Homo sapiens: one gene and its partners. The protein of the gene in region 1 interacts with the protein of each later gene in a pairwise test. Each region holds a gene or a part of one and is shown in the gene's direction. Other genes may lie near its edges.

Evidence for each region. Proteins that work in one complex are often made in the same cells at the same time.
Region 2: the proteins of YAE1 (region 1) and CEP126 interact in a two-hybrid assay, tested with the Homo sapiens proteins (2 studies listed by BioGRID and IntAct).
Region 3: the proteins of YAE1 (region 1) and LTO1 interact in binary tests that used the Homo sapiens proteins (3 or more experiments, as listed by UniProt).

Annotation. Positions count from the first base shown.
Region 1 is NC_000007.14:39,568,085-39,574,219, forward strand, and holds the end of YAE1 (protein YAE1 homolog), read left to right. Parts: intron 1-2,421; coding exon 2,422-2,543; intron 2,544-4,192; coding exon 4,193-4,622; 3' UTR 4,623-4,797; downstream 4,798-6,135. UniProt on the Homo sapiens protein: The complex LTO1:YAE1 functions as a target specific adapter that probably recruits apo-ABCE1 to the cytosolic iron-sulfur protein assembly (CIA) complex machinery. May be required for biogenesis of the large ribosomal subunit and initiation of translation.
Region 2 is NC_000011.10:101,993,928-102,002,637, forward strand, and holds the end of CEP126 (centrosomal protein of 126 kDa), read left to right. Parts: intron 1-3,671; coding exon 3,672-3,716; 3' UTR 3,717-7,135; downstream 7,136-8,710. UniProt on the Homo sapiens protein: Participates in cytokinesis. Necessary for microtubules and mitotic spindle organization. Involved in primary cilium formation.
Region 3 is NC_000011.10:69,664,279-69,673,435, reverse strand, and holds the end of LTO1 (protein LTO1 homolog), read left to right. Parts: intron 1-114; coding exon 115-220; intron 221-1,616; coding exon 1,617-1,687; intron 1,688-5,423; coding exon 5,424-5,541; intron 5,542-5,848; coding exon 5,849-5,917; 3' UTR 5,918-7,873; downstream 7,874-9,157. UniProt on the Homo sapiens protein: The complex LTO1:YAE1 functions as a target specific adapter that probably recruits apo-ABCE1 to the cytosolic iron-sulfur protein assembly (CIA) complex machinery. May be required for biogenesis of the large ribosomal subunit and initiation of translation.

The DNA of each region.
Region 1 (6,135 bases):
AAAATTAGCCGGGTATAGTGGCGTGCACCTATAGTCCCAGCTACTTGGGAGGCTGAGGCAGAAGAATCACTTGAATCCGGGAGGCAGAGGTTGCAGTGAGCTGAGGTCATGCCACTGCACTCCAGCCTGGGTGACAGAGCGCGACTCCATCTCAAAAAATAATGATAATAATAAATATATATATATATAGTTAATGATTTTGAAACATCAAGCATTACAGACTGTAAAATTAATTAAGAACTTTCTGTATATGATGCCAAAGATACATTTAAAACATATACAAGAAGATGCTTTTTCCTGAGTAGAATGCAAACTTTGTTTTATATTAACCTTCTGTGAATTTTCAAAATGTAAAATACCAGGACTTTTCCACATCAGACAAAAATCAGGAATGTTCACCTTCACATCCAAAAAGAAAAATTTTAAAAGACAATTTCAAGTAGTTCAGCAAGAATGATTTAAAATCTGAAATGAATGGCCAAAATTTTAAATTATCAACAGACAGTTCAATTTGATGGATCTCTCAGTAAACTTCAGTTTGAAACAACAACAAAAAATGCTGTTTACTAAATCATAAAAGATAATTCCAGGATATTATCCAATTTGAAAAATAAAAAATGTAACCCGTAATAAATAAGAAAAATACAAGAGAAAATCAACCTTTATTGGAATCGAGAGAATACCATGGACTTTAAAACTTCCTAAATCAGTAGCTTATCCTATATTACCATGTGTAGAAAACTGCAACTAATTAATGTAAGGTAGTTTTTATTAGTTGCATAACTTAAAAATATGAGGAAATTTTGGAATATATCTCTAAAACCACGGAATTGTCACTGAAATATATATTTCTTGAGACAGTGGGCAAAGTTCCCATTTATGGGAAATACTTTCCTTTTTTCACACACATGAAACTGAGAAAAATTATATCAAATGAGAAATATTTTTCTCTAAAATAATCTTAAGTACCCCAATAATGCAATACTGGGGAAATGTAAATTTTCAAAACTCAGATTTGAAACAGGTTATTATTAAACAAATATACATAAATCTTATTGTTTGGCAAGATTTTTCAAAAATTAGAGAACTAGTTAAACCACCATACTGTCCTTAAATCATATTTCAAACTTACATACCTAGTGCTTTTATGTTCTGAATGTAGAGTCTTCAATTTAATGACAATCTAGACTGAATGCTGTAATATACAAGCAAGTCACAGTTCACTTCAAACCAAAAGAAATAATCAGTCTTCTGTTTTTATCAAAATCATGATATTAAGATAACTATACAATTTATCTGTGACCAGTGATGGACCCAGAGAGTGTTGTGTTATGGCATTCTGTGGAAAGTCTTTGTTCCTTCTTTACTTTTGGCTTCTTCTTCTGAAACATCTTCTTTATCCGCCTCTTGTTCTTCCTCCAGTTTTTTCAAAGGTTGAGCAGATTCTGATAATTTTTTTGAAGGGTATGGCTGTGGTGTGTGCCTTTCTGAAGGACAAAGGCAACCTGCCACAAATATCATACAGAGTCCTAGTAACAGTCCAGAATGCAGAGTTGCTAAAGGAAAAACAGCATATGATCCCCACACTGGCAATCCAATGTCTTCAATAAAGTAGTTATGGCAAGTCCTGATCCACGTAGATAGCTGAAAGAGTGCTGACGTACTACTCATCTGAACAGAACCTGAAACAAACCATGATGAAACGGGTTCAATACTCTTCCACTCTTTATCACTTATAAAGTTTATGAAGTCCTTCTGAGTCCTTGGACCCTGAGGATGCCTAAATTCACCATCTTTACAATGATAAATAGTAGGAAGAACAGTTATTGTAAACTGTCCAGTCAGTCCTGGCTGCTCTGTGACATCTACTTTCACAACATTAACCTCAGATCTTCTCCCCATTCAGCAAAACTTTCCCATTCCGGTTAATGGTTTTGACAAGCAGGGCACCACGGGGCATAAAATTGTATCATCCAGCCTCCTTCCAGCAGCTCTCTCCAGTTCTTGTCTGTGATGATGCGTACGTTGCTCTGCCGCCTGTGGGTCCAGGGAGCACCCCCAAGCAACAGTACCAGGACTGCCAGCGGAACTGCAAGACTCCTGGAGGGTGCCATGTCTGCCGCTTGCCCACCTCACAGCAAGCGTGGCGGCCCAACACTAGGTTTTTTAAAAACTGTGACTATCAGTGTTTTAAAAATTGCCCGGTAACTCTAGACTTCAAAAGTGGGATAAGTAATGATAAACCAATAATAAACTTAGGAGAAGCATAGTCTGCTTTAGTTATATTGTTATGCCATATTATGGTCAGTAACACAGTAAAGGCCTAATTCATCTGCTTTCTAAATTGGTTCTGTACTTTTCTAGAAAAGCCTACATGTATATACTTAGTTACAGCTGCACTTCTCCATTACTTATTTTTAGGAAGGTTATAGAGATGGAATAGATGCTGGCAAAGCAGTTACTCTTCAACAGGGCTTCAATCAAGGTTATAAGAAAGGTGCAGAAGTCATTTTAAACTATGGACGACTCCGAGGAACATTGAGGTAATTTTTAAAGTCTAAATGCTGAATCATTTTAACCTCAATACTACTGGAGGATGTTTCTGTATAAATAAAGTGTTTAAACTGAAATGCTTTTCCTGGTGCTAAATACACTAAAGCGTGTCGCAGATCATAGAATTATATTGCCTTCAAAAAGTCAAAATCTTTATCAGCTCATCTACTTTAATGTGTGAACTACATATTGTCTTTTCGTGCAAAGAAATGGTAAGAAGATGTATACTTCTGCTACCTGAACAATTATCTATCTCATTGAAAGGTCTTCAGATTTTGAATAAAACTTGTAGTACTTCCACACAGTATGACAGACCTCTAGACTAGAAGTACATGATGAAAATAGTTGGTAATTAAGATAAAATTGATTTAATTTACTTTAGTCCTGAACATTGAATACTTGTCAGGATGCCATTGCAATAATGGCATATATCGGAGCCAAATGGTCAAATGATACACAGAGCCAGGAGCCTAGCAGCCTTGTCCAGTTTGATGCTCTATACCAAGCTTGTCCAACCAGTGGCCTGCATATCACATGTGGCCCAGGACGGCTTTGAATATGGCCCAACACAAATTCATAAACTTTCTTAAAACAATATGAGCATTATGAAATTTTTTTCATGATATTTTTTCTTTTTTCTTTTTTTTTTTTTTTTAACTCATCAGCTATCATTAGTGTTAATGTATTTTATGTGTGGCCCAAGACAGTTCTTCCAATGTGGCCCAGGAAAGCCAAAAGATTGGACACCCCTGCTTTATACCCTTTACACTGTCCTTGGTAGAGAAAAAAAAAATGCTTCAAAGAATCGCTAATTTTAAAGAAGAGTAGATGATAAAAGTTACCAAAACAAACCGAAAAATTTATTGTATTTGGGATTTTAGAAAATCCAACTATTAGGAACCAGAATTTAGTCTGCTACAGTAGGAAAACAATGTGAATATTCACATCATCAAGTTGATGTTACATAACCTTAGAAAGCTACTGCTGAATCTTTTATATCAATGGATTCTATTTTTAAATACTTTTCATAATAATCATTATTTTATGACATGACTATAATATTAAATCTGTTAGGACTAGAAGAATTTTTACCTTTTTCAAGGAAATTGTTAGTAGTTCAGCAAACAGTTTCTACTCTGTGACATAAGCCCAGGAAAGTGAAGTCTCTTGAAAACTTCTTTTCTCTAACCTTCATTCTTGATGGCAAGCAACTATGTGCTTAGAACGATGGTTTTCAACTTTGGTTGCACCTTAACTCTGAAACTTAAAAAAAAGATACCCCCTGAGATTCTGATTTAATTGGTGTGGAGTATAATCTGGGCCTTGATAGGGGTCAGAGCTCTTCAGGTGATTCTAATGTGCATCCATGATTGAGAATTGCTAGTTAAGAAGCTGTTTAATGTCCTTAAAGAAGAAACTAATTTTTCTTTCTCGGAGTTGTATTCATCTTCAACAGATATTACATAGTCATAAGAGAAAAATATAAAATCAGGAAAAGCGTATATAGAGTTATGAAAGAGGGGTTATGAATTATAAACAGTTTTATGATTAAGTCCAATCGTTTAATTGTTATTGAAAGATAGTCTTATATTTTTAAGTCCTATTTTGCTATTTAACCCTTGTTTATACTTTTGTTCAGTGCTTTGCTCTCCTGGTGTCACCTTCATAATAATAATTCAACTTTGATCAATAAAATAAACAATCTTCTGGATGCAGTTGGCCAGTGTGAAGAGTATGTGCTCAAACATCTGAAATCAATCACTCCACCGTCCCATGTTGTAGATTTATTGGACTCCATTGAGGATATGGACCTTTGTCATGTAGTTCCAGCTGAGAAAAAGATTGATGAAGCTAAAGATGAAAGACTCTGTGAAAATAATGCTGAGTTTAACAAAAACTGTAGCAAGAGCCATAGTGGGATAGATTGTTCATATGTAGAATGTTGTAGAACACAGGAGCATGCACATTCAGAAAACCCAAGCCCCACATGGATTTTGGAACAGACAGCCAGTTTAGTTAAACAGCTGGGCCTATCAGTAGATGTATTACAACACCTCAAACAACTATAAAATTACCTTCCCTTTTCTAATGAAAATAATGTTCAGAACATTTGGTTTCCTAACAATCGAAATTTGTACTGGTTTCTGCATCAAACACCTCAACTGTAGGGTTACCCTTTATGGAAGTTTGAAATTAACACTATTGTCTTCAAAATTAACACTATTAAATGTAATATAAGCCTTTTTTCTTTGTCACTGGTAATTTTTATGTAGTTTTAAGATATGGTCAGAAATTTCTACTGTCATTGACATTTCCAAACTTGTGGTCAAAATGAAGTGTTTTCAGACTCATTAGCAAAAGTGAACAAGAATTAAACATATTTTGTAAGGACCTACCCCTACTTCTACCTCCTGTCACTATTAGGTGGTCAGGACCTCACCAAACCAAAGTTATAAAAATAACTTAATAGTTAACGTAAATATAGACACACAGACAGATATATAGATATAGATATGTAGATATATATTGAAATTAAGAGACTGTGAGAAACTGAAGCAGTGTTTATGCTGTTGATTAAATGGTTAACAGCAAAATACTAAAATGTGTTTTAGTTTTGTGTTAATTAAAAGTAAGGACATTCAGTTTTATGAAAAACATAGAAAATATATTTTATGCTAAAGTCTAAGGAAAATGCCTACTTAGTTTTTCTAAGTAGTAAGGAGTTAGTAATATTGCCTAACAGTGTGCCAGATTATTTTAAACTGCAGTATATTTCATATTCACATAGGAGTAAAACACTGAAACCACTGACTTCTATATTACCTTGAGGTAATATTCTTAGTCTAGCATGGACAAAATTAGATTCAAATTTTTACTCCAGGATCTAAACTCAGAATCAGGAGAGGATTTCTCAGCACTTTTATTCACCTGAAACACAAGTTTATATGAGATACCTGACTTCAAAGGCACTGAAATAATTGTCCCTCATTGGTAGCCTTAATTGCTCTTTCACCCCTATTTATACCTACCATCTAAGCTGAAAGACAGGCATATTGAGATGAAGAATCTGACAAAGTATATCTTTTCAAGAGATTAAAAATGTACACTGTACTATGACCCTCCTCAAAGTTCACAGAAGAACATTAAGAAATTGAAGCAACAGATTTAAAATCAGAAAGCCATATTGAGTTTCAGGATTTATTAAAACCCCCGCTGAAGATACCAGTGCCATTTGACAGCTGGCTAAAAAAAGCTCTTCGATCTCTCCAGGTGTGAAGACTGTTTTTCAGAGATTTACTAGTTTGTCTTGTTAATATATGTTTCCATGTTTATGGACACAGCCCAAATCTCAACTCCACATGGAATATGGGTATTATAAGCAGCCTCTAAAGTCTTTTTAATGTTGCTGTGCCGTGCATATACATATGAAATACCTCTAAGGATGCATCTCAAGGCCACCCTAAGTAAAAATGTCATGGGTGTGGTAAATCTTGAGATTTTTATCTAGGCTTTTCCTGATAAGATTCCCTGAAGATAACACCCATTGCCACCATTGGCTACATATGGTGTGTTTGTACAGAT
Region 2 (8,710 bases), on another chromosome or scaffold:
GTTCCTTATAGATTCTTGATATTAGGCCAGGCATGGTGGCTCATGCCTGTAATCCCAGGACTTTGGGAGGCCGAGGCTGGCTGGTCACCTGAGGTCAGTAGTTCGAGACCAGCCTGGCCAACATGGTGAAACCCTGTCTCTACTAAAAATACAAAAAACTAGCCAGGCGTGGTGGTGTGCACCTGTAGTCCCAACTACTCAGGAGGCTGAGGCAGGAGAATCGCTTGAAACTGAGAGGCAAAGGTTGCAGTGAGCCAAGATTGCACCATTGCACTCCAGCCTGGGCAACAAGAGTGAAACTCTATCTCAAAAAGATTTTTTAAAAAGATTCTGGATGTTAGAACTTTGTCAGATGCATAGTTTGCAAATATTGTCTCCCATTCTGTAGGTTGTCTGTCTACTCTGTTGATAGTTTACTTTGCTGTGCAGAAGCTCTTTAGTTTAGCTAGGTTCCATTTGTCAATGTTTGCTTTTGTTGCAATTGCTTTTGATGTCTTCATCATGAAATCTTTACCAAGGCCTATGTCCAGGATGGTGTTTCCTAGGTTATCCTCCAGGGTTTTTATAGTTTTAGGTTTCATTTAAGTCTTTAATCCATCTTGAGTTGATGTTTTTGTGTATGGTATAAGGAAGGGGTCCAGCTTCAATCTTCTGCACATGGCTATCCAGTTATCCCAGCACAATTAATTGAATGGGGAATCCGTTCCCCATTGCTTGTTTCTGTCAACCTTGTTGAAGATCAGATGGTTATAGGAGTACAACATTATTTCTGGGCTATCTACAGAATATAAACATTTTTATATTCAGAGTATTTTCATCAGTCATGGGAGCAGAAACAGGTATTAGTGTACCAATCTTCAAATAACTTTAGATGTGTATCCTAATTGAAAAACTGCTAAGAAGTGTACATCGGTAAGTATCCATATCTTTTCTGTGTCTTGAGAGTTTTTTTTTTTTTTAATTATACTTTAAGTTCTGGGATACATGTGCAGAACATGCAGGTTTGTTACATAGGTATACATGTCCCGTGGTGGTTTGCTGCACCCATCAACCCATCATCTACATTAGGTATTTCCCCTAATGCTATCTCTCCCCTAGCCCTCCACCCCCGACAGGCCCTGGCGTGTGATGTTCCCCTCCCTGTGTCCATGTGTTCTCATTGTTCAACTCCCACTTACGAGTGAGAACATGCAGTGTTAAAACTAGACATTACTGAATCTTTTTTTTTATTTTTTGCCTTGGCACTGGGTTCTGGTAAAAATGATCTGGAACAGCACTTTTCAAACTTTAGTGTACTTTGTACCACCTACAGATCTTGGTAAATACATTTTCTAATGTAGTAGGTCTGGGATGAGACTAGGTAATACCAATGCTGCTAACTAACTTTGAAACACAAGTTAGTTCTATGTGAAGCACTAACTTCACATAGAAACATGAACATGGATACACATTGGAATCACATGGAGAGCTTTAAAAAATACTGATGCCTGGGTCATACCTGAGGGCAGCTTGGGCATTTAGATATTTTTAAGCTCTCTGAAGAATTCAAATGGGAAGCGAAGGATGAGAAACACTGGTCTAGAAACAGTGATGACAAACAAGAAAGTCACCTACCCTTCCTGGTCCCCTGTCCTTTGTCCATCTGGGAGTTCGTGGGGAAGGGGATCAAAGTGTAGCCTGCACTGATGAGGAAAGCCAGTGAAGTAGTCAGTCCAAGTACCCTCTCCCATTGACAGTACTGGACATACACTGACAAATTCTTCTTTTGCTGGACTTCTCTTAGTCACCAATCTATCAATAAAACAGCAGTACTACATAAATGTTGAATTAACTATTATAGTCAAGAAAGAGATTTATGAAATACTTTCATGTCTCTGACAAATTTTGCTTTGCTTCTCATTTGCATTGTATAAGTGGTCTTCCATTTCTTCTTCCGTTTATTAAATATTAAGTACCGTCTATGTGCCAGAAACTTTGCTACATTCTAAAAATACATCATGAGCACAAAATAGCCAACTTTGCTAAGGCTAGGATTCACATTTCTCAGTTAGAAATTTTGGCCACAAAAGAAGAAGGCAGAAGTGGTCAGAAGCCATTATTGTTAGAAGATCATCATGGTTAGTCAGTGATGGACAAATACAAAGGTGCCCAGCAGCTCACTCCTCTCCACTCTATAGCATCTTCATGACTACAGGCCCTGCTGACCAACAGCAGCCCTAGGCCGACCACCAGGCACTGGGCTGCAGACCTGAAGACAGTAGCTTCAGAAAAGCAGAGTCGTTCCACATTCGGCAGTTTCCATAGATTTCCCCAGCAAGCTCCCCCTTCATAGTTCCACTTCAGCAGCTTGGGCATGCTTGGATTATCAGATTTCCCTGCAAGCTTCAATTTGTTTACCCACACCAGTGCTTCAAACAGCCTGCTCAGTCATCCTTTCTCTGATCCTGACTGGCACGCCACAGTAGAGCAGGCTACATTTTTATCCCTTGCCCCATATACTCTGATCCTTCAATTTTCCTTTTCCAGACCCTCATTTTCCCAGCTCCTATATTTGGTAAAATGTAATTCCTGTGATAAGTACCTTAGTCCCATAATTCTTATAATGGCTTTGTTTTCCTGATGGATACGGTCTGATAGAGGAAACATAAAAATAAGCGGTCTCTTATAAATCAGTGTAAAAAGCACTAACTTCACAGGCATATGAACATATGGGAAATGAACAACATTCTGAGTTCTGAAAAAAGCTTCAGAGTTAGCCAAATGAATATTATTTCAGAGACTGAAAAGGAGAAAGGAACTTCCAAGGACTAAATGAAACAGATTCAGGATGAAGAGGGAGAGAAAAAACTGGAGAGGGAAGCAGGGGCTAATGTTCCCATAGGTTTCCTTCTGGCGTGCCTAACTATGTGGGTTCCAGGCCCTTTCATCATTAGTTCCGTCGGACATTGTTTTCACAAGCTCACCCCCAAGAACTCCCATTTCTGCTATACAACACTATAGAGTTTTATTGGTACCCAGAATTTATCTAGAAGAAAATTTTAAATAAAGAGCTTTAAATGCAGGTTCAAATAAATTAGAATTTATCATTTCACTTTGAACCCTGAATTTTTATTTATTTATTTATTTTTGAGACGGAGTCTTGCTCTGTCACCCAGGCTGGAGTACAGTGGAGCAATCTCAGCTTACTGCAACCTCCGCCTCCCAGGTTCAAGGGATTCTCCTGCCTCAGCCTCCCGAGCAGCTGGGATTACAGGCACGTGCCAGCACACACAGCTAATTTTTGTATTTTCAGTAGAGACAGGGTTTTACCATGTTGGCCAGGCAGGTCTCGAACTCCCGACTTCGTGATCCGCCTGCCTCGGCCTCCCAAAGTGCTGGGATTACAGGCGTTAGCCACTGTGCCCAGCCTGAAACCTGAATTTTTAATGATATTGTAAAACTGCACATTTTCAAAGTGGGAATTTTACCTTTTAGAGTAGAAAGGTACTGATGAACATAATGTAAGGGTTGAGGTAAATAATCTATAAAGTCCTCTGCAATCTTAAACTCATTACCTGGGAGAATGATGTCAGGATGTGTTGAATATGCCACTATTTGACATGTCAGCCTAGTTTGTAGCTGCAGTGTTTTGGCATGTGTTTGCATGCTTGTTTCTTCTTTCTGATTTCCAGGAGAAGAGAGAAGATAGAACCAGCAGCTGCAGAGACAAGAGATAATTCCAGCAGAATCCGTCTAAGAAGACCTTTCATGTACTTCCCTAGGACTAGATGCATACCGTTTTGTGAAAACCAGCCATAGGAAAACATGTGAGCAACAACCCCCATGAACATTTGTCCTAACTCAGATTTTGTGAGCAGTGAAGTTTAACAGAGCAGTGACATTTAACAAAGCAGTGAAGTTTAACAGAGTTCTGAGAATACCATGAAAGACATTATGCCTGCCTAAACAAAAAGCAGGACATAACCTAGCTCTGAATACATGCCACAAGGATGAAGCTTGTGAGTAGAGCAAACAAACGTTTTTCCAAAGAATTCACAGTGCTCCTTTGCAATTTATAGATTTCATGTTGAAATATATGTTAAATAAAATTTCTGTTTATTGAACCTCTTTATTAAACCTCTAACTTACTGATAAGATGTTTATGAAGTATGGCATATTTTGATTTTTTTAATTGTAATAAATATTCTTAAAGTTACCACATCCCACAAAATGGCCCTTGGTGGCAGCAATAGAGCAAAGGTTACCTTTTTGTATGGTGAAGGGAGGCCTTCCTATGGCTGTACAATTACATCGATTCTTCCAAATTTCATATTTCATACATGGCACTTTGGCATACCGAAAAAACATGAAATTTTTCATTAAAATGCCATGAATCAAGCCAGGGCCGTTGGCTTATGCCTGTAATCCCAGCACTTTGCAGGCCGAGGTAGACAGATGGCTTGAGCTCAGGAGTTCGTGACCAGCCTGGGCAACCCTGTCTCTACAAAAAATACAAAAATTAACCAGGCATGGTGGCATGCACCTGTAGTCCCAGCTACTTGGGGTGCTGAGGCGGGAGGATTACTTGAGCCCAGGAGGATTACTTCAACCTGGGAGGTTGAGGCTGCAGTGAGCTGTGTTTCGCCACTGCACACCAGCCTGGGTGACAGTGTGAGACCCAGCCTCAAAAAAAAAAAAAAAAAAGTGATGAATCAAAATTAGAAATTAAGAGTTTTAAGAAAACATGTGGCCTTTTATTAATAACACTACTAAATTTTGGTTCCTCCATAGAATTAGTTTTGAAACACTTGATGTAGTGAGAAATGCATTAACATGTTGAATGCCTACCATGTACCAAATTTTGTGCATATATTTTTTATTTAATCTGACCAGCCACCCAAACCATGGGTATTTTTGTCTCCACTTTAGAGATGAGAAACTGAGCCAAGGCCACATAGCTACCTACAGTGACAGAATCAAAATTCAAACTCAGGTTTATCTAGTTCCAAAACCCATGTTCTTTCTGCCACACCATGTTAGTAGAAATGGAAACTATTGGATGAAATGAGGAAAAACAGGAAAAGAATTCACTTTTTAAATGAAGAAATTAGTGAAAAAATTGACCTAATGAAGGAAACATTTGTGCTTTCCTATATTTTTAATTTTAAGAATAGGATTTCGGAAGGCGACAGAAAATTTAGTTCTTAGACATTTAAATAGAAAGTTGTGTGCCCCTATAGAAAATATTTGAGAATTTCTTATACTATCAAGAAAAAATTCTGTGAATTAAGATGTAATTTATAAAATAACATTTCAATGGGGGTAAACAGGCCAGAAGAGTGTGCCAAGTTGTTTGTGAATCATTCCAAGCACCTCAGATGAAAACTCACTTTTATTAAAAAAAAAAAAGACAAGGGTTTATATTCATATACACTAGTATATATGTACACAGCAGCATCCTGCATGCCAAAGTAGCTTCACCGTTAGTAATCCCTCACTTTAATACCTCTTAGGAACCAAAGAATGCCTCTACAAGCAAAAAGATAGTTGAAAATAGTTAAGATCCAAAGTCAGAATAGGCCAAAAAAAAAAAAAAAAAAAGCCTAAATAGTAAGCTGGTGAAACAAGATAAGATTTGCATTTTACTAGAACTTGCACATTATGATATTGTCCTTTTATGAAACTGTCATATGACCAGAATTCTTCTGTAATTCTGCCCATGACTCCTCCAGAATTTTAGTAGATACAGGGTGGGTTCATTAAGAGTGATAAAAGTGGGAAGACATAAAGAGCCTTTGTGAATTAAAGTGGAAGAGAATAACACTTTGCATGCTATAAACGTGAAAACTAACATTTTTGGCCAGACACAGTGGCTCATGCATGTAATTCTAGCACTTTGGAGGCCAAGGCAGGAGGACTGCTTGAGCCCAGGAGTTTGAGACCAGCCTGGGCAATGTAGCAAGACCCCATCTCTATATAAAATATAAAAATGTTGGCTGTGCACGGTAGCTTATGCCTGTAATCTCAGCACTTTGGGAGGCCAAGGCAGGCAGATCATGAGGTCAAGAGATCAAGACCATCCTGGCCAACATGGTGAAACCCTGTCTCTACTAAAAATACAAAAATAGCTGGGCATGGTGGCACGCACCTCTACTCCCAGCTACTAGGAGGCTGAGGCAGGAGAATCGTTTGAACCCAGGAGGTAGAGGTTGCAGTGAGCTGAGATTGCACCACTGCACCAGCCTGGCAACAGAGCAAGACTCCGTCTCACAAAAATGAATAAATAAAATAAAAATAAAAATGTTACTTTTTAAAAAGTAACTTTTTTAATAATATAAGAAAGAAAAATGCCCTTTCACACTGAATCTTCAAGTTCTAAGGAAGAAAAGAGTCTCCTTTCGAATGTGAAGAAGTAAATTTAGAGGAAATCAAACAAGCATCACTTTCCTCAGTGGAAAAACTTATGAAACTTCTTATAAGAGAGAGTAATCTCAGGCCGGACATGCTGGCTCATACCTGTAATCCCAGAACTTTGGGAGGCCGAGGCAGGTGGATCATTTGAGCTCAGGAATTCAAGACCAGCCTGGGTAATATGGCAAGAGCCCAACTCTACTAAAAATACAAAAAGAAAAGAAAACAGCCAAGCTTGGTGGTATGTGCCTGTGGTCCCAGCTACTGGGGAGGCTGAGGTGGGAGGATCGTTTGAGCCTGGGAGGCAGAGGTTGCAGTGATCAGGAATTGTGCCACTGCACTCCAACCTGAGTGACAGAGCAACACTCTGTCTTAAAAGAAAAAAAAAAAAGAGAGAGATAGTAATCTCTTGGGCAAAAGGTATCAAATAATTGAAAGAAAAGTTTAAACACATTTCCGAGAGGCAGGGCAACTAATAACTGGTCAGAAAAATTTAGACGGTCTTCATTTTAAAATTGGCATCAGGAAGGATTACCATGAACTTATTTTAAATCCATATTGTACCAGAATGACTATGTCTGTGTTTCTTAGGAATGTTGAAGCTTTTTGTGAAAACTGTACTGTATACATATATAAATATACACACACTTACATGTATGTATTTTGATAGATATTACATGGACTAAATTTTGTCAATTTCATGTAATTTACCCTTTGCAATAAAAATGATTCATTAAATATATAACTAAATGTGATTTGGTTTTTATAACTGTAAATTTTTAATATAAAAATTCCCAAAATGTTTGTTTGTATTTTCTTTGACATTGAGAAACCTGACACTCATTAGCCACAATACAGGCACTAATTTAACTCTAGTATACATGAAAATTTGCTTCAGAATTGCTAATCCACATACCTAGGAGAAACAGATTTCTAACTAAAGTACAGCATTTTTATCATTCTTTTCATCCCCAATCTTACTTATTCAGTCAACACACTGTTTTCCAAAGTCACTAAAGCCAGTTCCTTCTTCTCTACCCCCTTCACTGTGGTGGGTTTTTGTTTTGTTTTTTAAGAGTTGGGGGTCTCACTTTATCACCCAGGCTGGAGTGCAGTGGCATACTCATAGCTCACTGCAGCCTCGAACTCCTGGGCTCAAGAGATCCTCCTACCTCAGTCTCCCCAGTATCTGGGACTAAAGGCATGCATGGCAATGCCTAGCTTTTTTTCTTTTTCTTTTCTTTTTTTTTTTTTTTTTTTTTTTTTGTTTGGAGATAGGATCTCACTGTGTTGCCCAGGCTACACTGGAACCCTGGCCTCAAACCACCTTCCCATCTCAGCCTCCTGAGTCGCTAGGATTGCAGGAGTGATAGTTTACCAAGTGAATAATTTTAATACAGTTTAGATTCATTTGTCACAATCTGTATCCCATGTTGGATTCTTCCAACATCCTGGATGTTTTTCCTATTTGCATACAGTAAATTCACTCTTTGTAGAATTGTGTAGGTGTTGACATATGCATAGCATTGTATACCCATCACTACTGTACCATGCAGAACAGCCCTATCATGCCAAAAATTCCTTCATACAGCCCTGAGCAACCACTGATCTGGATTTTGTTTCTATTATTTTGCCTTTCCCAGAAAGGGGGAATATTAGAATAAAACTTTTGGTGCTGGATTGATGTCGGAGATATATAGAGAATTCTTACAATTTTATGTTGCTCAGCATCCATTTTGAATACAAGTTTAACTTTCTCATACCAAAGCAGGGCTCAGTCATCTTTGGCACAATTTCCAGTTCTACATTACACCCAGATGGCTCAAGCTGGTGGCCAGTGACAAGAACTTAGAGGGATCTCTCCTGCCTTGCGGACTGCACTCCCTGCTTTCCTGCCTCTCTTTAAATGGACCATTTAGACATTTGCCTATTAAAGTGGCCCACACTCCATTCCCTTAGACATGCTGCTAGACACACTTTCTCTCTGGCTCTTCCTTTCTGCCTCATATGACCTGGGGACAGAGGACTGCCCTCCTGACTCATTATGCCCTCCTTGCCCAGGATCTGTAAGTGAAAATCTTTGAACTTATTTCCTATTGTGGTGATGTACTGAATTTGTGCTTTCCATCTGAAGAACCAGGGGACACCAGGGAGAGCACAAGGTTGAACTCCCAGTGCCAAAGTGATGGTCAGGCAGGCATAAACTGGACATGGATCAGACAAGAGCCACAAGGGCATCTGCCAGTATAAACAAGTTTCCCATGTGAGGGACCCCCAGTCAGGTCAGGCAACTAGGACTTAGGCCATCCTCCAGGTAAAA
Region 3 (9,157 bases), on another chromosome or scaffold:
CCTCCTTTACTCTGGTTTGTCTTACTGGGTCCGGGTAATACAAGAGAGAGAAGTTTTTCTGGAGAAAGTATTCTTTCTCCTGTTGATTTGATGAAGCATGCTTCTTCTTCACAGGTTTCATGGGGAAGGGTATCGGGAAGGCTATGAAGAAGGCAGTAGTTTGGGTGTGATGGAGGGAAGGCAGCATGGCACGCTGCATGGAGCCAAAATCGGGTCTGAGGTAAGTGGGAACCCCCATCTGGAGATGAAGCCTCTTCATTTACAATTTATAATTTATTTCGATATTCAGTGTGATGGAGTAAGAATTGTCAGGCCTTTTAAAATCACAGTGCCGGATGGGCGCGGTGACTCACACCTGTAATCCCAGCACTTTGGGAGTCTGAGGTGGGTGGATCGCCTTGAGGTCAGGAGTTGGAGACCAGCCTGACCAACATGGTGAAACCCTGTCTCTACTAAAAATACTGAATTAGCTGGGCATGGTGGTGCATGCCTGTAATCCCAGCCACTTGGGAGGCTGAGGTATGAGACTCGCTTGAACCTGGGAGGCAGAGGTTGTGGTAAGCCGGGACCGTGCCATTGCACTGCAGCCTGGGCGACAGGATGAAACTCCATCTCCAAAAAATAAACAAAAAAAATCACAGTGCCTTTGCATGGGAGTTAATGGACTAGATGGACTGTTGCTGGAGAAATATTCTTAGTACAGAACCAAGAGTGCATTTTGCTGTAGGTAGATACAATTAAATTATGCATGCTGGATAAAAGAAAACAAGTCCCTGGTCTCCTTAGTTTACTTGGGAGTGTCATGGTGCTGGCTCATGTACTAAGCCAAAGAATGGGTGCCCTCTGTCATGTGAACATATTCCATTTATGTTTACGTTGAAATTTCATTAACTTTATGATTTTTTTTTTTCTCTTCTTGCCCTTTGTCCTAGATTGGCCCTTACAGATAAGTGGCCCTTAGTGGCAAAGTCTGAGTTGAGGCAGTTATGACTATATTGGATGTTCGATGCTGTGAAACAGATCACCACAAAATTCATGGGCTTAACACAGCAAATATGGATGATCTCACATGTTTCTGAGGGTTGGGAACTCAGGAGCAGCTTTGCTGGGTGGTCCTGGCTCAGGGTGTCAGCCAGAGCCGTGTCACCTGAAGGCTTGACTGGGCTTGGAGGATCTGCCTCCAAGGTGGTGCTGTCACCTGACTGTGGGCATGGACGTCTCCATGGGGCTGCTTGTGTGTCCTCGTGACATTCAAGAGCGAGTGGTCCAAGAGAGCTGGTGAGGCAAGTGACACTGGCTTTTATCCCTAGACTCAGGAGCTTTGTGCTGTTCCTCCACATTCTGTTGGTTACGAAAGCCACCCTGGTGGAGTGTCGAGGGACCTGCACAGGGCATGGGTACCAGGAGATGAGGACTGGGGCATCTGGGAGGCTGGCTGCCCCACCGATGACCTAATTTCCTAATTTCCATTGCCTAATGCTCAACAGGTGCTTCCAGAACAATAGTGTGAGAAGCACCGCTGCCTTCTGCCCCCACCTTTTGTTTTGAGATCTTGGTAATGAAAGTGTAGCTAGTTGCTTATTAATTTCACTCTTAAATATTTTTCACATTCACAGATCGGGTGCTACCAAGGTTTTGCTTTTGCATGGAAATGTCTACTGCACAGTTGCACCACTGAGAAGGACAGGTAAAGGTGGAGATGTCTTTCTTTCTCAGCGTAGGAACCAGGAGTTCTAGTTCCATGGGTTACCAGCATGCCCTTGAGTAATCAATCTGTCTGTTCCTCATCTGTAAAATGGAGAAAATTATCAGTGTCAAGCTTGAGTGTTGTTAGGAGATTTAACGGAAATACTAAATAGAAAGTGCCAGGCACATTTTAGGTGTTTGGTGAACACTGGCTGTTGTTGCTTCTCAAGAGTTCTATGCTCCTGCCTTTTACCTGGAGTCATTAGTGCACCATGTGGCTTTTAGATACCCTACCAATAAAATAATGTTGACATTGATTGTATTTTCTCATTCACCTTTCCCCTGAGCTTCTAATAAACAAATTATAACAGTTTTGTATCACTTGGGCTCAGAGATGAGGACACCAGTGTCATCAGTTTTTTAATGTAGCCAACTAAGTCTGTTAACAAGAAAATGCCTTTAAATGTGTTTAACTCCTTTCTGGAACTTGTCAACACTCAGTAAGTGTTAGCTGTCATTTGAATTGTTTTTAGCCTTTAAAAACTCTTCTCGGCCGGGCGCAGTGGCTCACTCCTATAATCCCAGCACTTTGGGAGGCCGAGGCGGGCAGATCACGAGATCAAGAGTTCGAGACCAGCCTGGCCAATATGGTGAAACCCTGTCTCTACTAAAAATACAAAAATTAGCCGGGCGTGGTGCCATGTGTCTGTAGTGCCAGCTACTCGGGAGGCTGAGGTTGAAGAATTGCCTGAACCCAGGAGGCAGAGGTTGCAGTGAGCTGAGATAATGCCACTGCGCTCCAGCCTGGGCGACAGAGCAAAACTCCTTCTCAAAAACAAACAAACAAACAAAAACTCTTCTTCCTGCATTGTACTTACTGAAGCCCCATGTGACCCTGCTTTATCTATCTTCATTCTGAAGCTGGAAATGAACCCTTGAGATGGTTTGGATACTCTGCTGTTCATGGGCAGCAGCAAGCGCGGGACCTGAGCTGGTGCTCTGCGTCATTCTGACACCTGGTGGCCTTGCCTAGCGTGGGAGGGGCACAAGGAGAGTGGGTAACTCTCTCCCTGACTACGTGACTTGTGCTTTTATTTGAAATATCTTGAATTTCTAGAAATACCTTGAATATCTTGAATATTCAAATGTTTAAGAATGAGGATGCTTGCAACTGATACGGGTAGTTCTTTCTGCTCCGTTTGTACCAGCAGTTGGGAGTCGATGGGATTCTGGGTTAGCAGAGGGGCACTTGAGGACATTTTCCTCCTGGTTCTCAGGCAGCGGCCGGCAGCTGGGGATCCCAGGGGAATCGCTGTTGGCAGCCTGTGCTACCACTAGGTGGCAGTCAAAGCTGAGCCTGGCTCTCAACTCCAGGCCACAAAAGGATGTGTGTTCTTGGAGTTCTCCGCCTGTCTCCCTTCTCCCACAGCGGCAGAATCTGCCGGCTCCTGGAGAAGTGCTCCGCTGTGTGCCAGTGGTCCCATCCCAGGAGGTTGCCAGCCCTTACCCCAGAGCAGGGGTTTGCTGACGTCTGAAAGCAGCACACTCAGTCTAGCTAACAGAGAAGAACCGCTTTGGTTGACGAGGGGCTGGTGGAAGCCCTGCCAGACCCCCCTCGCAGCCGCCCTCATCCCATCCAGTAGTACCCAGAGGTCTCTTTGGAACCTAAGGCTTTATTGTAGAGCAGTGGTTCATGGATGTTTAGATCTTACATGTCAGGTTTTTTTTTTTGTTTTTTGTTTTTTTTTAAATGGTGAAGGGCTGATATTGCATGTTTTACCTGTAAATTTTTCCAAATAAGGATGTTAAGAGAAAAACACCTGCCACCGCATTGTCATTCAGCAAAATGCTGGGCATTGTAACACCAAAGAAACCACGGAGAGCGGCATCTCAGGCCAAAAGATGGTGCTTTCCGTTGAGTAACTAGCTTTCCGGTAAACTGCGTGACACTTCTGTCCCCGGCTTCAGCAGTCTGGTGAAACCCTCCTGCAGACCAGCGCGCACCGGGGCTGAGCACGGGGGCTCTGGCACCATCACTTTTCTTTCATTAGCCCTGAGCTGCTCACACCTGCCTGACGTGTGCCGCCTCTGATGGTGCGCCCGGCTGGGTGTGTCTGAGCAGCATCGCTGACCAGAAAAGTAACCGCTTGCCAAGTGGAAAGTGCGTGGTCCTCTGCATCGGGTTAGCATACAGCCACCTCCCACGTTTTGGCATCTCCCTTTGGTTTCCCTGGAAACCAGGTGCTTTGTTGCTAAAACTGACTTGCTTTGACCTTTCACAGTTTTGTATTTTCTCAGAGAGGTAGCCATGGTTAGCTCTTGTAAACTGGATGCTGCTGGCAAACTTGCTCTTCTCTGTATCCAGGAGCACCAGCTGTTTGCAAGTACACAGGAGGTCTTGGTTGCTTTGAATTGCTGTTGATTCATCCTAACTGTCAGTTCTTTAAAATGCCCGTTAATCGAGTATCTTGCCTACTCTGGCCACTCACATGGTCCAATGCGGCATAGAGGCAGCATGCTTCTCAGGACCACCTGTGGTTCATTGAAAAGACCTGGCCCCACGAGATGTACACATGTGTGGATTATTTTTAAACCCCTGCAGGTGAGAGCCCTGATCTCTAGGATCCAGAGGAAACCAAGAGACCAAGAGACTAACATTTATTGAGCACCTACTCTGTGCTGGAGTCCAAGCTTCATGTCAATTTTTTTTTTTTTTTTTTTTGAGACGGATTCTCACTCTGTCCCCTAGGCTGGAGTGCAGTGGCACAATCTTAGCTCACTGCAACCTCCACCTCCCAGGTTCCAGCAATTCTCCTGTCTCAGCCTCCCGAGTAGCTGGGACTACAGGCACACACTATCACGCCCATCTAATTTTTGTATTTTTAGTGGAGACAGGGTTTCACCATATTGGTCAGGCTGGTCTCGAACTCCTGACCTCAGGTGATCCACCCTCCTCGGCCTCCCAAAGTGCTGGGATTACAGGCGTGAGCCACCGAGCCCGGCCCATGTCAGTTATTTAATCCTCTTGAAAGTCTGTGAGGTTGCTGTTACTCTCCCCATTAAAAAAAAAAAAACAAAACAGAAATTAATTTCTCACCATCTGGAGGCTGGGATGCCCCCCATTTTACAGATGAGGCCAGCAGGGTTGAAAGCAGGTAGAGAGGTGTTGGGGAGATGTCATGCCCAGGGCTGCTGTCTCCTGAGTGCACAGCCTTTCTGCAGAACCTCCTTGCCTCCCCAGCAAAGCTGTTTCCTCCCTGGGGAGGGGACAGTACTGATTTCCGCCTTTGGAGGGAGGGGTTTGCTGGTTTACCTGCAGCTGAACTTTGGAAGGCTTTGAGCACAAAGAATCCAGATCCTGGAAAATCCCCAGACCCAGAGCAGGCCTGCTCGTGCCCAGCCCCAGTCCCTCTTGCCCAGTTCTGTCTGTTTCTGCATGTGTGACCTCGAGAGTCAGCAGGGCTTCTGGCTGCCTCAGCCCCTTGGCCCCGTGGTCGGAATGGAGGCGTGTCTGTAAGCTAGGCACACACTTGCTGTCGAGGCACTGGGTATGGGCCTAAGCTCGTTGCTAGGTAAATAAATATGATTTCGTGTAATGAGAAAATAATCATCCAGCTTTTGAACGAAGGCATTCTTAGCGCACCTGCTGGGTTTCAGGAAGCCAGCAGCATAGCTGTTGTGTAAGTTGAGCCTGTTGTGTGCACATGACTGAGAGTCTGTATTTCTGTGCTTTACAGCAGAAAGATGAAGGTCTTAGAATCATTGATTGGAATGATCCAGAAATTCCCTTATGATGACCCTACTTACGATAAACTCCATGAAGACTTAGACAAGATCAGAGGAAAATTTAAACAGGTGCGTGCACTGTGTGTTTCCTCCTGCTAGGAGCACCTGATTGCGCCTTTCCCAGGCGGGGCAGCGCACTCCCGGGGCCGCTGCGGCAATGGCCTGGGGCTGCGTGCGCCGCGGAACTGTCCGTAGAGGCGCCTCATCCTTGAGTCGCAGTGCAGGAAAACTGAAGACAGTCCAGAGAAAAGGAGTTAGAACTCATTTATGGGCTGGCCACATAGACAGGAAAAGCTATAGCTAGAGATAGAGTTATCTTCTCATTTTTCAGTAAAAATGCACAAGATTAAAAATACCATCTCTTTTGTGTTTTCAGTTTTGTTCGTTACTCAATGTTCAGCCAGACTTTAAAATTAGTGCAGAAGGTTCCGGACTTTCATTTTGAGGAGGATGGATGAACAGAGACCGAACGTCGAGGAACAGATGTGTGTGTGACGTGTTTAGAAATGCGGTGAAGGGCCAGACGGTGCTGGGAAGGCAGTTGTTCATTGGGAGGGTGAGGGTTCCGGTTCGGCCGTGGGAGGGCTTCCTTCCCTGGGGTTTTCTGCCTGTGTCACCTTGGTGCCCGTCTTGGGGCCTCGCCACACATGCCCTTTGTTGGGCTGAAGCCGTCCCTGGCAGAGCCCTCGTGCATTGACTTGACAGCCTCTCCGGCAGCACAGGCCTAGCTGGTTCTGGGTTGGAGTTGGCTCTGGATAGGGTCAGTCACCAGGCCTGGACTGAAGGCAGTTATTTTTATTATTATTATTATTTGCAATGAGAGAGATGGTTGGCCCCGAATGAGGCTCATGGGAGGTTTGGACGGGTGCTGTGCCGCATGTCGAGGCCGATTGTGTGCCAGGCGGTGCGGGACGTGCCTCCCGTGTGTTATTTAATCCCTTCAGGAGCCCACAAGATGGGTGTTATTCTCATTTTACAGAGGAGGGAGGGGAGACGCGAAGGGATTGCCTGGTCTAAGGGCACCCAGCAGCAGAGCTAGGACTTCCGCCCTAAGGCTGTGCCTCACTGCCACCAGGCACAGCCGCCTCCGGAATGCACAGGCGAGTCCCTGCCCTCCCTCCCAGGCCGCACAGGTCCTGCCAAGCCTCACGGAGCACGGGGGAGTCTGTGGTGGCCAGTTTACCTGGGCATCTGGCTGAGAGGAAGAAAGGCCAACCTGATCCTGAGGGGACCCAGACATATCCTTTGCACTGTCCCTAGAGGGGCGATGAGCTTTGCAGCATTAAAAAATGGTGAAGGGGGGAAATATTTTGAACCAAAGACCAAATGTTAGGCCGCCGTTATATTTGCAGAAGCTTTGAGAACCATGCGTATAGCCTCCTGCATTCTCCCCTCTCCTAGGAGCTCTTTTGTCTCTGTCCTTACGAGGCGTCATACAGAGGCAGTGGGGTGGGCACAGATGAGCAGAGTGGATGGTTCGGTGGGTCCCCACGAGGCGAGTGGTGGTCATATGTGATGGCACGTGTTCACACACCCTCCTGTGTACCCCCCCAGGGTCACCGAAGTCCCCACACGCTGGCTCTCCACACCCCTCCTGTTCCAGAAAGCATGTCCGAAAGCAGTCCAGGAGATTATTAAGGGGTCGCCATGAATCCACTTTGGTTTTAAAACCATTCCCGAATGTCCTAGTGGATTGTGTTGTGCTGCCTAAGCTGCCGGCTGCAGGAGCCAGAGAAGTGACCCCCGCGGGAGCAGCGGCAGGTGGATCTCCACGGTGGCTCGCTTTGTTTTTGTTTTGTTTTTTCTTTTAAGACGGAGTCTCACTCTGTCGCCGAGTTTGGAGTGTATTGGCGCGATCTCGGCTCACTGTAACCTCCGCCTCCTGAATTCAAGTGATTCTCCTGCCTCAGCCTCCCTAGTAGCTGGGATTATAGGCGCCCCCCACCACGCCCAAGTAACTTTTGTATTTTTAGTAGAGATGGGGTTTTGCCTTGTTGGCCAGGCTGGTCTTGAACTCCCAGCCTGAAATGATCCACCCACGTCCACCTACCAAAGTGCTGGAATTGCAGGCATGAGCCACCACTCCCGGCCTGCTTTTTGTTTTTGAAGACAGGACTTAGGTCTCCTCCTCCCGAACTCTAAACCTGCGTGTGTGGCTGTGCACCGCTCGTTTGTAGCGTCACCTCAGGTCTGGGGAAGTCTGTGCTGGCATCTCCTCATTGTGCCTTCATCAGAGCTGGTGCCTTCGGGCCAGAAAGACTCTCGTTCTTTCTAGATGGTGGGATCAGGGGCCTTTGCTGTGTTTCCCTTGGTGGATTTTTGTGTTTTGTAAGTTGTCTATTTTGATAATGTATTATTTTTATAACTGTAAAAAAAGTAAATAGCATATTTTAAAGTGAAAGTTTGGGACCATTTATAACACAACGTCATTTATAACACGGCATCATTTATAACACAACATCCAGCCAGTTTATTTCTTCCTCCAGGGCATTTAGGATCTGGATATGAAGGAAGACATGGGCCTTAGATTTCTGCCAGCTTGTCTCCTTAACCTAGCGTAGACACAGCCACTGCGAGAGTGCTCCCATTGTGTTGGGGACTGGTCAGCTCCTGCTCACCTGGCCCAGCCACCTGTCAGCAGCTATTACTAATCCACCCTCCCCGAGACATCTCTATGCCCACTGTCCCCCACCTTCTCTCCCTTCCTCTCCTCTTTTTTCTTCTCCCGTCTCTGTCTCCTGTTCTCTCTCCCTACTCCCTCTCTGCCTCTTTGGCACAGCTGGCTGAGCAGCATACTGCCACTTCCTCCTCTGGTTTGCCTCACATGGGAGCCAGGGCTGCCTCCTCATCTTCAAGATTCTCACACACTCTGCTGACCTACGCCTGCCTGGCCCCTTTCTAGAGGACGAGACCCAGTTTCCGGGAGCCCTTGGTCACCGCCAACATTGCAGTATGGACAGAGCCCACTGTAACAGGTGCTTCCGTCGTATCCAGGCAACGCCATCCTCAGCTTTTACACTGGGAATGAGCATGTCTGTGTCTCCTCTTCTGCTAATGAGGTGTTAGTAGAGGGTCCGACCAGTCCCCAGCACAGTGGCCCACTCTTAGAATGGCTGTGTCTGCTGGGTTAAGGAGATGAGTTGGCAGAAGGTCCTCCGGGGGCTTCTGGGAAAGGTTACGTCATTCCAAAGAAAAGGTGCTGGTGCTATTTTGGACATCATCCTGTTGGGATGCGGCAGCTAGAACTGCTCCAGGCATCTTGCAGGCTGGCTACAGCTGAAGCCACCCCTGAGCCTGGCAGAGTGAAGAGCTAGGAAGAACCTGCGTCCTCGGTGCCACTGCTTGCTGTTCCCACCAGCCCTGAGCCACCTTGCTCACACCTGTGAGCGCTACCCGTCCCAGTCCTGCAAGGCTGTGGCCCTGGGTGTCCGCTGTTTGCGGACAAAGTCTGCTTGCTGTCTTCCCCATCCCTGCCAGGCCCATCCCGTCCCGCTAGTTCCAGACATCAGCCTTTGTCCAGAGTGGCTTTGAGTTTGGGAGCTCCTGGGGTTGGATTGCATCCCTTGCGGTTGGTTTCCCAAGGCTCTGGCCTGCTCCTTCCTTCCTGTCAGAAGCTCCCAGCGTGTCGTCTGCCACTGTCTCAGCTCAGGCTGCCACCACAGCACCACTGATGGGTGGCTTCAAC